Regions from separate parts of the Homo sapiens genome. Here region 2 is linked to region 1. Evidence: fine-mapped expression QTL. Tissue or cell type: whole blood. Region 1 holds a variant in brackets; the other region holds the start of a gene. All regions are shown on one strand. Distances are between the middles of the regions.

The links. PIP is the estimated chance that this variant, and not a neighbour inherited with it, causes the effect.
Region 2: it holds the start of ATP10A, and the variant in region 1 is fine-mapped to the expression of ATP10A in whole blood (INTERVAL, PIP 0.95).

The regions. Positions count from the first base shown.
Region 1 is chr15:25,784,535-25,792,404 of GRCh38, reverse strand. All of the region lies in intron 1 of ATP10A (ATPase phospholipid transporting 10A (putative)), which reads left to right. Among named protein-coding and RNA genes, the nearest start is that of MIR4715, 60 kb to the left of the region's middle. RefSeq lists an enhancer at 2,009-2,108. The variant G/A (reference allele first, on the strand shown) is at 4,602.
Region 2 is chr15:25,860,330-25,866,569 of GRCh38, reverse strand. ATP10A (ATPase phospholipid transporting 10A (putative)) reads left to right here and starts at 3,243. Exons shown (of 21, transcript NM_024490.4): 1 at 3,243-3,922. The coding sequence starts at 3,474. ATP10A-DT (ATP10A divergent transcript) reads right to left here and starts at 1,300. Exons shown (of 2, transcript NR_183988.1): 1 at 662-1,300.

The DNA.
Region 1 (7,870 bases):
GGGGCAGGGGGAGGGCTGGTGGCCACTGTCTTTGCAGAGAGCAGAGCAGGACCTCCCCAGTGTGCTGGCCCAGGGCCCTGTCTCTGGGCTCCACCCTGAGCAGGTACCTTTGCATGAAGACTCCTCTCAGCGCTGAAGCTAATGGTGGCACTGATCCAACATACTGTACTACCATGCCATGTGGGGTTGACATGAGAAAGGACAAGTAGATTAATGGAACCTAATAAGCCCAAATCAAATGATATTATCTGTAACAGAGTGGGTATGTAGGTTCAGTGGGAAAAGAACTAGTTAGCAATATTGACACAATTGGCTGTCTGGAAGAAGCAGCATTGGATGCTCAGGTCGTAACAGAGGAAAATGAACATCAGTTGGTTTGACCATTTAAATGTTTGTTTTAAAAAAAAAATACTCTGCACTCCTCCCACAAAAAACAAACAAGCAATACTTGGAAACAACATGTATAATACAGGGACATAGGTGACTGTCTTAGCCAGGCCTGGAGAAGTCAGATATATTTACCTATATAAACATCTGAAAGGATTATATAACAAAATTATGCTACAACTAGAAATGTTAAAACCGACAAACCATGGCTCTTAGAGAAAAATATTTCCAAAGCAAAAGACAGAAAAGGGGTTAATATTTTCAATATGAATGCTCTCACAGGTTTCGTGGTCAAGAAGAGAGGAAAGAATACAATAGAAAAAGTGAGGGAGGCCAGGCACGGTGGCTCACACCTGTAATCACAGTGCTTTGGGAGACTGAGGCGGGAGAATTGCTGGAGCCCAGGAGTTTGAGACCACCCTGGGCAACATAGCAAGACTCCGTCTCTACAACCAAGTTAAAAAACTGTTGGGCAGGTGGTGCATGTTAGCTACTCCCAGCTACTCCAGAGGCCAAGGTGGGAAGATTGCTTGAGCCCAGGAGGTCGAGGCTGCAGTGAGCTGTGATTGTGCCACTGCAGTAAGCTAGATTGTGCCACTGCACTCCAGCACGGGCAGCAGAGTGAAACCCTGACTCTAACTAAATAAATCAGAAGAAGAAGAAAAAAAGAAAGATTGAAGGGGAAACATGCAGAGTTAATTCACAGAGGAGCCTGCCAAGTGGTCTGGGTGGCAGGGAGATGCACATTAAAAGAAAAGTAGATGTCCTGCCCTAGCCAAGTGTGGTGGGGCACGCCTGTAATCCCAGCTACTGGGGAGGCTGAGGCAGGAGAATTGCTGAACCCAGAAGCCGGAGGTTGCAGTGAGTCGAGATCGTGCCACTGCACTCCAGCCTGGGCGACAGAGCAAGGGTCTTGAAAAAAAAAAAAAAAAACACTTGCAGGGAGGTTTTAAAAAGACGAAGCAGCTGGTTTTGCAGAAAAAAGGGCCTGGAGACTCTTAGATACTGACGGAGGAGTGTGAATTGTTACAGCCTCTTAGGAAAAAATATTTACAATGCAAAACTTCTCCGTAGGAATAAGGAGCGCACAACTCCGGCCCATTTCCTGGGATTGTCATACCAATGAATGAATTAATGCATAAGAAATTACCTTGAAAACTCTAGAAGTGCCCCGGAGTGTTTTACATCCATTACTAGTGGGCAGTATTATTGAGATGTCTTGAGGTCTACTAAGATACTTTGAGAATGTACCATTATATGCAGAAAAGGCCACAGTAGAAATGATTTGTCAGAAAAAAAGTTTCATGTTAAAACTTACTAAGAGGTTTGTAAGTGATACTGTGTTTAGGCATCGTTTTGCTTTCGCAAACTAGTGTTTCCTGGGGAAAATAGATTTAATCTGGGTGTTCAGTGTTGCATTGTAGTGAGTAATTATGTGATGTGAGCATAGCATGGTGTGTCACTTTCTCTGGGCTGAGAGACTCTGCATCCTTTCTTCATTCTAAAAAGAGGCCAGAGGCCCTGCCCTCTGGGGGTGAGTTCCGCTGGGACAACATTCAGCCCTTTCTGACTTACCACAGAGCGACCAGTATTTTCCATTCAGCTTGACTCATTTGAGCAGTCTGCTCCATGCACACATGTGCTTCCACACATCTGGGACATTTCTTAGAGCTCACATCACCTCGAGGAGACATACAGAATAGAAAGTAGTTCAGAAAATACATTTTGTGCATCTAGTCTACACTACTGTATTTTTGGCAATTTTGGTATCAGAAGATTCACTCCAGAAAAAGCACTCCAACTATCATTTCTCACTGCCTCTCACTTTTAGTATTAGATTCAGAATCCATTAGCATGTCTCACTGAAGGAGCAGATGTTTCAGTTTATGGTGGAAGGAAGACACATTCTGGGCGTTATGCAACATACTTGGCTCACGTTCCCACTGCGGATTTTGCCATTGCTGTTTCAGTGCTGAGTTCTCACCTTCATGATTTTAAAAATACATTGGTTCTGTAAACATTTACTTAATAATCCATTTTCCAGAATCTTTGTCCTGGGTGTTTTAAAGCAGCATTTCTCAACCGGGAGCGATTTTGCACCCCCAGGAGGCATTTGACAATGTTTGGAGCTGTTTTAGGTTGTAACAACTTGTAGGGAGGGAGCCCTACTGGCATCTATAGGAGGAGGCTGGGGATGGTGCTCAGCAAAGTGCAGAGCCCAGAGCTGTCCACCATCAAGGATATCCAGCCCCAAATCTCAACAGCGCTGATGGCGGAGAAACCTTTGAAAGCTATTGTTGCTGGCATTCTGGGCTTTCTACTTCTCTGCCTGATGTATAATGAGTGTATATGAAATCTGCGATAATTTTAGAGTCTTGTTTGGTCTTTTTTAAGTGATGTAAAATTATTTTCTCTCTGTCTCTGTCACACACACACACACACACACACACACTTCTTTATTGGTCCACCATATGAAAAATAAATTCCAAGAAGGGTTTTCTTATTCCCAAGGCATCGGCCTTGGCACTAATGATTATTCCACAAGATTCTTGGATCTCTTGTGGTGATCCTCCCATTTAGGGCTCGCCTCACTGTGTCCTGGTTTCACATTTGCTGTTTGTTTAAAGTGTTACACACTTCTCCTGTTAGTTGGCCAAAGGAGTCCCCCAGGCTGACCTCACTTGGGAGGCCTCAATCTAGTTGGTCTGCATGTTAGGTTCATTAACATGTCTTCTTTTTTCTTAAAAAATGTATTCTGGCCAGGCATGGGGGCTCACTCTTGTAATCCCAGCACTTTGGGAGGCTGAGTCAGGTGGATATTTGAGCCCAGGAGTTCGAGACCAGTCTGGGCAACATGGTGAAACCCCATCTCTACAAAAAATAAAAAACAAATTAGCTGGGTGTGGTGGTGCACACCTGTCGTCCCAGCTACTTGGTAGGCTGAGGAGGGAGGATCCCTTCAGCCCTGGGAGTTGGAGGCTGCAGTGAGCTATCATCACAGCCCTGTACTGCAGCCTGAATGACAGATCAAGACCCTGTCTCAAAAACAAACATCCCCGCAAAATAACACATTACCTGTTTCATCTATAAGGCACAAAGCATCCGGATTTTTCTAGGTTTAGTCGAATGTAACACAGATTTAATTGGAGCTTTCTCTTTGTAGGGATTAATTGTTCTCTTCCAATGAAATAATACAGAATGATACTAAACACATAATCATATTTTATATACCACCGCACCTCAAGCAGTACTGTCTGTGTTCTCCATTTCATGGAAATCCTGTAAGCAATCTTACCATCTTTCTAATAAAAAAATCAAAGTAACAGCTCTTGTTTTAATTCCAAACCACAAATCAAAGACAAGATATAACACGCTGCTCATTTGTACTATTTCTGATTGTGTTAGTCAAAATCAGACACTCACTTCAACAATAATAGTGAGGAAAAACCATGCTCAAAAAGAAAACAGGAGATGTGAAGTCAAAATAGTGGCCACGGCCTCTCACTTAATTGAACAGTCACTGTTGACAGTCTGGTGACAGCCAGAAGAGCGTGAAGCGGGTGGGACGGGAGCAGAGGGCTACGGGGAAATGGGTCAGTGTCTGCTGGGGGAGACTGTAGCGATCCTACAGACCCCCGTTCTGCAGATCAGGAACTCGGGCACTCAGAGTCCAGGCTTCTGGGCTGGCGCCCTGTCTTACTGGGGATGAGTCATCAATGCACTTGAGACTGTGTGTGCACCGTGGCTTTGTGACCCTAAATGAAAGTAGTGGCCAGATGTGAAGCACCCTCGTTAATTATTGATCATTCCAAAGCCAGCTGTTTAGTGCTGCTCCTACATGTTTCCTGCAGGAGGGATTTTGTGAGGAAGGGTGTGGCGGCTTTGTGCAGAAGGAACTTGTCAGGTGGCCAGGCTGGGGCCCCTCAAGTGTCAGGTGTGCCCTGCCCACGTTGGGAGCACCTCTCAAAGCCACCAAATCAGCCTGATTAAAGCCAGGGGAATAAACAGCTACCCTGCCCTAGCGGGAACTCTCTCAGTGGCTTGTTTAGCCCAGAGGGAAGTCCCCAAGGTGATCCTGGGGGAGGGCAGTGTCCTTCTATGGCCACACCTCAGATGGTCCCAACTGCAGGTGGTACCAGTGAGGGAGGAGTTCATCCCTCATCTATGCAGGCCGATGTAGGGGGCACTTCCCAGTTTGTAGCAAAAAAAACACA[G/A]TTTGGTGACTCCTGATCTTGGACAAGCCCCCTCCAGTTGTTTGCACATTGGAAGTGGTTTTGGCAAATGGACTGAACTGTGTTACTCCATGTCTGTGTCAAACACTGGCACAAATCTGGAACTGTCTGCCTTTCCTCCCACCTTTTTCTTTTCTTTTTCTTTTTCTTTCTTCTTTTTTTTTTTTTTTTTTTAAGAAGGAGTCCTGCCCTGTCATCCAGGCTGGACTGCAGTGGCGCAATCAGGGCTTACTGCCACCTCAACTTTCCCAGGCTCAAGTCATTCTCCCACCTCAGCTTTCTGAGTAGCTCGGACCAAGGTGTGCCAGCACACCTGGCTCATTCTTGTATTTTTTGGAGAGATGGGGTCTCACTATGTTGCCCAGGCTGGTCTTGAACTCCTGGGTTCAAATGATCCTCCTACTTCAGCCTCCCAAAGTGCTGGGATTACAGATGTGAGTCACCATGCCTGGCCTCCACCGTTTCTCAAGCTTAGTGATATTTTATCTCAGACCACATTAGTCTCTGCACTGCATAATTTTAAAGGGAAAAATGGAAGAACTTTTTTGCTTAGCACTTTATAGTCTTCATGAGATATTCCTCCTTTAGGCTACCAGATCAGATGTGCTTTCAAAACCAAATCTCTCTAAGGCTTCCCAGACCCTGGAGTCACCCAGGTTTGTGTGACTTTTGGGAGGTCAGTCTCTGCGCGTTTGGTTTCCATGTCTGTAAGTGGGAACATACTGTCAGGATCGTGGGAGGGTTCACTGAGAGAGACTGTGAAATGTTCTGTGCAGGCCTGGGTCATAATAGGATATCCAGCACAGCTTTGCTGATTTTTTAATGTTGTTATTACAATTAAGATGATAATGGGCCAGGCACGGTGGCTCACACCTGTAATCCCAGCACTTTGGGAGGCCGAGACGGGCAGATCATGAGGTCAGGAGATTGAGACCATCCTGGCTAACACGGTGAAACCCCGTCTCTACTAAAAATACAAAAAAAAAAAAAAAACTAGCTGGGCATGGTGGTGGGCGCCTGTAGTCCCAGCTACTCGGAAGGCTGAGGCAGGAGAATGGAGTGAACCCAGGAGGCGGAGCTTGCAGTGAGCCGAGATCACGCCACTGCACTCCAGCCTGAGGGATGGAGCGAGACTCCGCCTCAAAAAAAAAAAAAAAAAAAAAAAAAAGATGATAATGATGTCTCAATGCTGAGAGGAATTTAGCGTCTAGAGCTCCTGCTGGTGTGGCCTAAAGACCTGTCCCAAGCTCTTAGTCGTCCATGGCCTTTGTAGGGGAGGTCCACTTCTGAAGAACAGTTCTGTCGTTCAAAAGACTACATGGTCTTGCTACAGCTGGGCATGAAATGTGCTTGAGTGATGCGCAAGAGGACTGTCTGCCTTCATGGATGTGCCACTGGAAGTTACTGTCTCCAAAAATGGAGTAAAACTGCGGTGGTGACGGGCACACATTCGAGATGTCCTTCCAGCCGTGTTCACTCGGCCGTGGGAGGTGAAGGCCGAGGTGTGGAGGCAGACCTGTGGCTGCTGGCTGGGGTGGCAGGCACCCAGGAACCCTGTGTCCTCCGGGCCCTGTGTGGTCAGCCCTGGCCCACCCTGATGCCGTGTGCTGGCGTGGCACCTCTCTGCCCCCAGCCACAACGCCAGCTTCCCCGCCTGGGCACGACCTTGCCTGCATGGCCTGTGCTCAGCCCTCAGCTCTCCTTCTCCCCACACTTCTCCCTGGTGCTCTCAGTGATGACATCCACAGTGGGGGCTGCTGTCACCTCTGTGCTTAAGACCCCCAAATATTTCTGTCTCCATCTGCCTGTCTTCAAAGCTGGAGACACCTCCGGAGACCGGACCCCGCACAGCCCCACCAGCTTCTTGAACTCAAAGTTGGTCACTGTTGGACTCTGTCCCTTCTCCAAGCAGACCCTGCCCCTGGGCGAGGTGGGTGGTGCCCCCATTCCAGCCACCAGGGCCAGAGAACTGGATGCCCATTCAACGATGTCCTCTTCAGCAGCACAGCCAGACTTCCCCAGCCAGCCGTTCTTCCTGTCTCTAGAGGTCCGTGCTGATAAAAGCCTCAAGAAGGGCGTGGTTGAGTGGCTGGTATTAAGAGTGTTGTGCCAGTGGGCTCGATTTCTGTCTTGGGGGTATGTAGAACCTGTGCATGGGGATAAATTGCAGGGTGAGATGCCTCTCCTGCCACTCACTGCTTCTGCCTGCCCTTCAGTTTCTGTCACTACAGCCTGTGAGCTGCTCCTTCCAGCCAGAGTCACGAGAATGGACGTTATTAAGTGTATTCGTCAGCTCAGGCTGCCGTGGCAGTGGACCACAGATGGGGTGACTTCAACAGCAGGAATGTATCACCTCGCAGTTCTGGAGCCTGGAAGTCAGACACCGAGGTGTGGGCAGGATGGGTCCTCCTGAGGCCCCTCCCCTCGCCATGTTCTCCCTGTCCTTACAGCTGTGTGCGCACGCCTCTGCTGCCTTTCTCTTATAAGGACCCCAGCCACATTGCATTTGGGCCTAGCCTTATGGCCTCATTCTAACTTTAATCCTCTTTAGAGCCTCTCTCTCCAAATAGTCTCTCGGGGGACACAGTTCAGGGGACATTAGGAAAGGCTGTTAGGGAAATGCAGCCAGTGGTGACATGGCAGGGTTGATGTGGGCCCAGGCTCCTTGCCGGGTGCTCCAGCTGGAGTGGTTGCAGGATTTGGACCCCTGAGGCATCTCTTGCCTTTTTGGTCTGCTGCAGTAAGGAGGGGCCTGTCCCGCTGTTCCTTCATAAGGGGCTCCTGAATCTGAGTCTTCCAGGGTCTGTCCCTGGTAGGGATTCCCATGGACTGCAGGGCCTTTTCTTTTTCTTTTTTTTTTTTTTGACACGGGGTCTCGCTCCGTCACCCAGGCTGGAGTGCAGTGGCGCGATCTCGGCTCACTGCAGCCTCCACCTCCCGGGTTCAAGCGATTCTCCTGCCTCAGCCTCCTGAATAGCTGGGATTACAGGCACGTGCCACCACACCTGGCTAATTTTTGTATTTTTAGTGAGATGGGGTTTCTTCATGTTGGTCAGGCTGGTCTCAAACTCCTGACCTTGTGATCCGCCCGTCTTGGCCTCCCAAAGTGCTGGGATTACAGGCGTGAGCCACTGCACCTGGCCAGGGCCTTTTCTTAGAAGCCAGCGTCCTTTCTGCAGCCCATGAGGAACCCCTTCCCCCACTCCCACAAACCAGGACAGTGACCTGAGGTCTGCACGTGGCACCCCCAT
Region 2 (6,240 bases), 75 kb before region 1:
CTAGATGAAACTTGGGTTTTTAGCTGTTGGGCCACCCTCACCTCCTCTCTTGCACATCCCACAACCATTCCAACAGCATGTCCCGCATGCTCTGAGGAGGCTATGTCCCACATCCACCATGGCCACCCAGCCTGAGCCACAGCACCTTTGCAGGATCACTGCAGTGGCCGCTCGCCACGACGTCTCCCTTCTTCTGCCCTGGCCCTCTACATTCTATTTACATTGCAGCAGGAGTGATCTCTGGAAACCTCGGTAAAGCCACTTGATGCCACTTCTCAAAATCCTCCCAAGCTTTCCCTCTCGCTCAAAAGCCAAAATCCTCACCGGGATCCACAAGGCCCCACATGACCTCACTCTCGGCCACGTCTCCAATCTCCCACTCAGCTCCAGCTACCCCGGCTTCCTTGCTGGGCCTGAAATCCCTGAACGCTCCCTATCCCGCCCCGTGCTTACCATTTCTTCCCTAGGTGCCTGCACAGCTTGTGTCCCTAGGCCTCCGCTCAGTGTTGCTTGAGAAGCCTCCTTGGACCGCCCAATTGACAGGAGCAAGAGCAGGATCCCACCCCTCCCAGCCCTGGTTTCAGGTGTCCCTTCATTTTCTGAGCCATCTTTGTTGGGATTCCCACGTGAGGACTTAGTGTTCCGGGGAGCAGAAACTTACTGTGTTTCCCAGGTGTCCCCATTGCCTAAAGCAGAAGCTGTGGGGTTGAAGGTTTTAGAATGAGTGTGAGGCAGAAGCCCCACCTGTTTCTTAAACACATTGAGATTTCTCCTTCTTTGGGACCTTTTGACAGAGCTGCCCCCTCTGTCTGGAAGCCTCTTCCACCTGATCTTGTCCCATTCAGGTTTCAACTCCAGTGCCTCTCTTCGAAAAGGCCATCCCTCATCCCTTCCAAAGCCCTCCGTGGGCTCTCATGGTTTTTCGTTCAGTTGCTGCAGCTCCATGACAACATCTTGTCCTCTCTAGCTCTCCGATGAATTCCTGTGCCTGGAACATTGCCGGGCATACAGCAGGGGATGAGTAAGTATTTGCCGAACAAGGACACTTACAGTGGTTCTCATGGCCTATAGCAGGCCCTTGTTAGAGCCCTGTGGTGCAGATGGCCAACCCAGAGTTGACCAGACCACATCAGAGCCTCATCCTCGCCCCAGCAGGCCAGGGTCTCAGAGTCCAGCTGGCAGAAGACACCTGAGCTCAAAACCCCTCCACGATTCCCCAGATCACACAGCTTGGAGACCTTTCCAGAGGTGAGCTGAGCTAGGCCTTCCTGGAAATCCTGACTTTGCACTGGGGAAGAGCAGGTGGAAAAAGATTCCAGACTTGAGGAGCATTGTGACTCACAGAATCTTGGAACCTTAGAGCGGAATGTGGATGGGATGAGTAAGGACTGTTCTGAGAAGGATAAGGAGACCTCTCACCTTGGGGCTGGGCCTGAACCAGGGAGGGGCTGAAGAAAATCAGCAAGCTGGTTCCCCTCAGGGCCTCAAGGGACCTCTGCCTGAGGAATCAGCATTTGGCTTTGTAAGCACCAGGAGTACTCCTGGAAGCTCCAGGGTAAGCAAATGGAATGAGGCGGTAATTACTTTGGCAACAGTGTGGACTGGCTGAAGCTGGGAGTCTGGTAGGCGCGGACACCCCTGGAGACTTTGGGCGAAGGGTCCACGGGGATGCCTGTGAAGACAGGAGGCCGAAGTGTAGGGAGGCCGAAGGCCTCGGGGGTCACCAGGTGGGCTGGTAGAGGAAAACACGGAGCCATGGGATGTGAGGCCTCAAGACTGCAGGCGCTGTGGGCCTTCATTTGCAGTTGATGCTCCGTTTGGGTTTCTGCTGGTTGACTGTGAGACCTGACTCCTTTCCCCAACAATGCAGACTTCAGCCAAACCTTTCCCTGATCTGGGCCTCTACATGTCAAAAGCCCACCCCTGTGACTGGGGGATGGGATTATTTTCTTCACACCTGTCACCACTCTACCTTCTAACACTGGGTTCTGGGCAACATTGTGGATGGTGGCAAAACTGGGCAGAGATGTAAGAATGTCATAACTGGAGCCGGGTAAGCCAGGGTGCTGGAGGGGAGGGCCTCCCCAAGCCAGGGTCCTGGCGAAGACGTGATTTGAGTCCATCCAGGGCAGTGCCTTGTTAGCAGGCACCCCCAGGAAGAGCCTGGGGCCACGGCCAACCGCCCAGCCACGGCCTCCTGGGCAAGAAATAACTGCTTCTCATCTCTGTACTTCTTGAGTGGGAGGCAAACAGTCACAGCCATGAAACATCTGTGGGGTCTCACTGCGGACGTGGGGGACTCCCAGCTCCTTTTTCCATGCCGTGCTTATTCTCCCACCCCTTCTCGGATGCCCCATGATGTGGAGGGGAGCCCTTCGCCCCACACTTCTGGGACACCCTCCTGACGCTCCCCTCTCCTCCCCACAACCATCCTCGCCTCCCCACAACCATCCTCGCCTCCCCCGCCGTCCGGGCCATGACAGCCACCTCAGAGCTACAGCGCACAAGGAGCGTTTCGGTCCTCATGATTTCCCAGGGAGGGAAACAGACACTCAAATACCTGCAAACCAAATTCTGTCTTTGCTATAGCGATATATTTCTCCTTTCCATGAAGAAAGAACAGAAAAAAGAAAAAGAATTTATTTAGGAGAGGAAGGAAAGGCAGTAATGATGATGGTGGAAAGGAAACGGTCTAGTTCGCCCAACAACGGAATCTGAAAGTGGTGGGGGCTGGGAAGTGGGGTAGGAAAGAAGTTCTTAGAGGCAACGCGGAATCGCCCTTCCCAGGGCTCCCCAGGAGCAGAGGTCCTGCGTAAAAAAGACTTAAAAATTGGAGCACTGGATGCCATGGATCCTTTGGATTTTGATTCCAGTTGATCCCTGGAGTAAGGTCCTAACCGGGGTCTCCCGAGGTCGTTTCGCCGTCCAGGATGGAGCAGGTCTGGCCCCTGGAAGGGCGCGCGGGCTGCTTGGGGACGGGGGCGCCTTTTCTCGCGCTTCGCGGTTTCCTCTCTCCTACTGCAGGCAGCGCGCGTTTGCAGCGTTTTGGGACCGAACTGATGCTTCTGGGAAACGAAACTAAACCTCTCTGAAGTTTCCAGCTCGGGCTTTTTTTGTTTCCCGCTATCCGGCGTGGCCCAGTCCGGGCGCGGAACGAGGGCGGGGCCGTGGCCACCGCGGCGGAAACGACCCGGGCCGGGGGCGGGCGGCGAGGACAAGGGGGCTCTGTGCGGCACCCGCCCAGCTTGCGCCCTGGGGACTGCGGCCGGGCGGCGGGGCTGGACGGGAGTGGACGGGGCTGGGCGCGGGCTGGGCGCGCTGGGCCGGCCAGGCGGCGCGCTGACCGCGGTCTCCGTGCGTCCCGCAGGCGGGGAGCTCGCACCGCCGCGCCCGGGCCGCGAGTGATGATAACCTAAGAGGCCGGCGCGGGCGGGCGTGAGCGGCGGAGGAGCCGGGCGCGGCGACACGCGGCCATGGAGCGGGAGCCGGCGGGGACCGAGGAGCCCGGGCCTCCGGGACGGCGGAGGCGCCGAGAGGGCAGGACGCGCACGGTGCGCTCCAACCTGCTGCCGCCCCCGGGCGCCGAGGACCCTGCGGCTGGCGCGGCCAAGGGCGAGCGGCGACGGCGGCGCGGGTGTGCCCAGCACCTGGCCGACAACCGGCTCAAGACTACCAAGTACACGCTGCTGTCCTTCCTGCCCAAGAACCTGTTCGAGCAGTTCCACCGCCCGGCCAACGTGTACTTTGTCTTCATCGCGCTGCTCAACTTCGTGCCGGCGGTGAACGCCTTCCAGCCCGGCCTGGCACTGGCGCCGGTGCTCTTCATCCTGGCCATCACGGCCTTCAGGGACCTGTGGGAGGACTACAGCCGCCACCGCTCCGACCACAAGATCAACCACCTGGGCTGCCTGGTCTTCAGCAGGTGAGTTGGGCGGGCGGGCGAGCGAGCGCGCGGTGGCGCAGGGCAGGGCGCCCCGGGAACTTGGTGTTGGGCACAGTGATTGGCAGGGGCTGGGTGCTTAGAAGGCAGCTCCACTCAGGGTGGAGGGCCCGGCTGCGCGGGACCCGGTGCCGACCGAAGCCACAGCGCCGCCAAGGCCTCTCTGTGCCTCCGCCGCAGCTAAAGGGGCGCCCTGGATGCGGGGACGCGTGGGGATCCCCTGTCACTCCGTGTCGGGGCCAGAATGATCCCAAGGCTAGAAACCGACGGCCGCTGGACATCCTCATCCACAGCCGCTCCCACCTGAAGTGAAAGGCAGGAAAAGCCAGCCTGGCCCCCTGGCCTGAAGTCCCTGCCTCAGTCTTCGGCCAGGCACAGTGGTCTCTGAACAGCCGGCACAGGACAGTAAAGCTCAGTCTGCTAACAGCTCGGCTCAGGACAGCAGCAAAGTGAAACTGCCGCCAAGTGCTGATATGTCTGGCACGGCCCAGGTACCAGGGCAGGGGAAATAACAGCAGTGTCCATCCTCCACTGTGAGCCATGAGCCGCGAGCCAGGCACCGCCCGGTAGCTGCCTGCCTAATTTTCTTCATCTTAACCTGCTTCCTGGGGGAAAGAGGCTGTGGGGTGTTTGTGAGCCCTGCCACGGGCAGTACCAGGGGTGACCCTGCGATGGACCACTCCTGCTCTTTTTCCCTCCCTGAGTTTTAGAGTCTCCGGCGGACCTGTCCAGAGGCCTGCGGCCTTTTCATCCTTTATGCTCTCCACCCCAGGAGAGCCCCTTGGTAGATCCATCTTGGAGCTGTGTCCAGCAGCCTGGACCACCTCAAGGCCCTGTCCCTGAGAAAGGTGGGTCGTCTTAGCTTTCCTCCAAAGCTCAGCCCATCGTTACCTCCTGCCTCACCTTGCTTGACCCCGGAACAGGGACTGAGATGGGCTTCTGAATAGAACATTAGCGGTATCTGGCTTCCATTATGCATGGGGAGACTCTAGGAAGCCCTATGCTCTCTTAGTGGCAGATTGTTCCCCTAAAAGAGGAGGGTCAGAGTGGCTCCTGCCTCTTAAACGTAGGCATTCACGAATGCCTTAGACACAGGCACTCATAGCTTGGATGAAGCCATGGATGCGTGCCTCTGTAGTTGAGTACCTTTCACCCTCCCAGCAACACTGCAGTGGTTATGCTCCATATTTTTGTAAACAGAGTAAACGGGTTCAGAGAGGTTAAGTAAACCTGCCCAGTGTCACACAGCAGCAAGGTCGTGGTACTGGGATTTGACCCAGGTCTTCCCGCCCGCACAGCTTTTTGAATATTTCTTTGCTCGTGCTTCTGAAACTTTTGTAAGAGTCACTGAAGGCGCTTGTTAAAATTACAGTTTTCCAAAGTGTCTCACTCAGCAGGCCTGGGATTGAGCCCAGGAATGTATTAGATTAGCGTGCACGTAACTCTTATATGATGGCCCACACTTTCAGAAACACCACTCTGCCTGCTCCCAAGCCTTGCTCTTTGGCCAGTCAGCAAGAGTGACTGTCATTAGACCGGGCTGTGGGATTTCCTGGCCCCTGTTCACCAGAAGCCTGAGCAGGGACAAGAGCGGCACCCCTTACACAAATGGCCTCCGTGTCCCCTGAGCGAGGCCTCCACCACATAGCCCTGGTGGGGCTCAACAGTTTTAAGCCTTTGCACAGATACCACTTCCTGTTATTACTGAGCCCGTAACTCCTGTAGCCTCCTTTTTAGAAATACTTATGCCTCAGGAGAAATACAGTTTATTTTCAGTTGGCAAAGTGCTTTGAATCCATTATGTCATTCGATCCTTATAGTAACTATCACACCCATCTTGCCGATGAGGAAACTGAGGTTGGGATCTAAAAGCTATTCTCTTGTCTCTGTGACCTTGTAAGGCTTCATGGGACTTTGAAACTTTAGCTTCCATTTGGACTACACCCATCTACGTTCCCCTCCCCTTCCACTCTGCCCTTGACTCCAGATATCTTAACTCTCCCTCAGACTCTGTCTTCTTCCTTACTGAAGGAACTGTCAGCATTTTTCATTCACTTCCCAGCTGCCTTGAGGACAGTGGGCGCAATGCCCTACTTCTGTTTATTGTTCCCTGGGAAGGCAGGTCAAATTCTTCCAGTCCCAGAAAGGCTGGAAGAGGTGGTGCCAGGCCCTGGGAATAGAAGGAGGAGGAGGCTGGTTTCACCCAGAGTTTACTGTAGGGACAGATGGCACCATAGGGCATGTCTACCAGGTGAAGTCCTGGGTGGGGCTCCCAGCCCCGGGATGCAGGCTCCATGTCT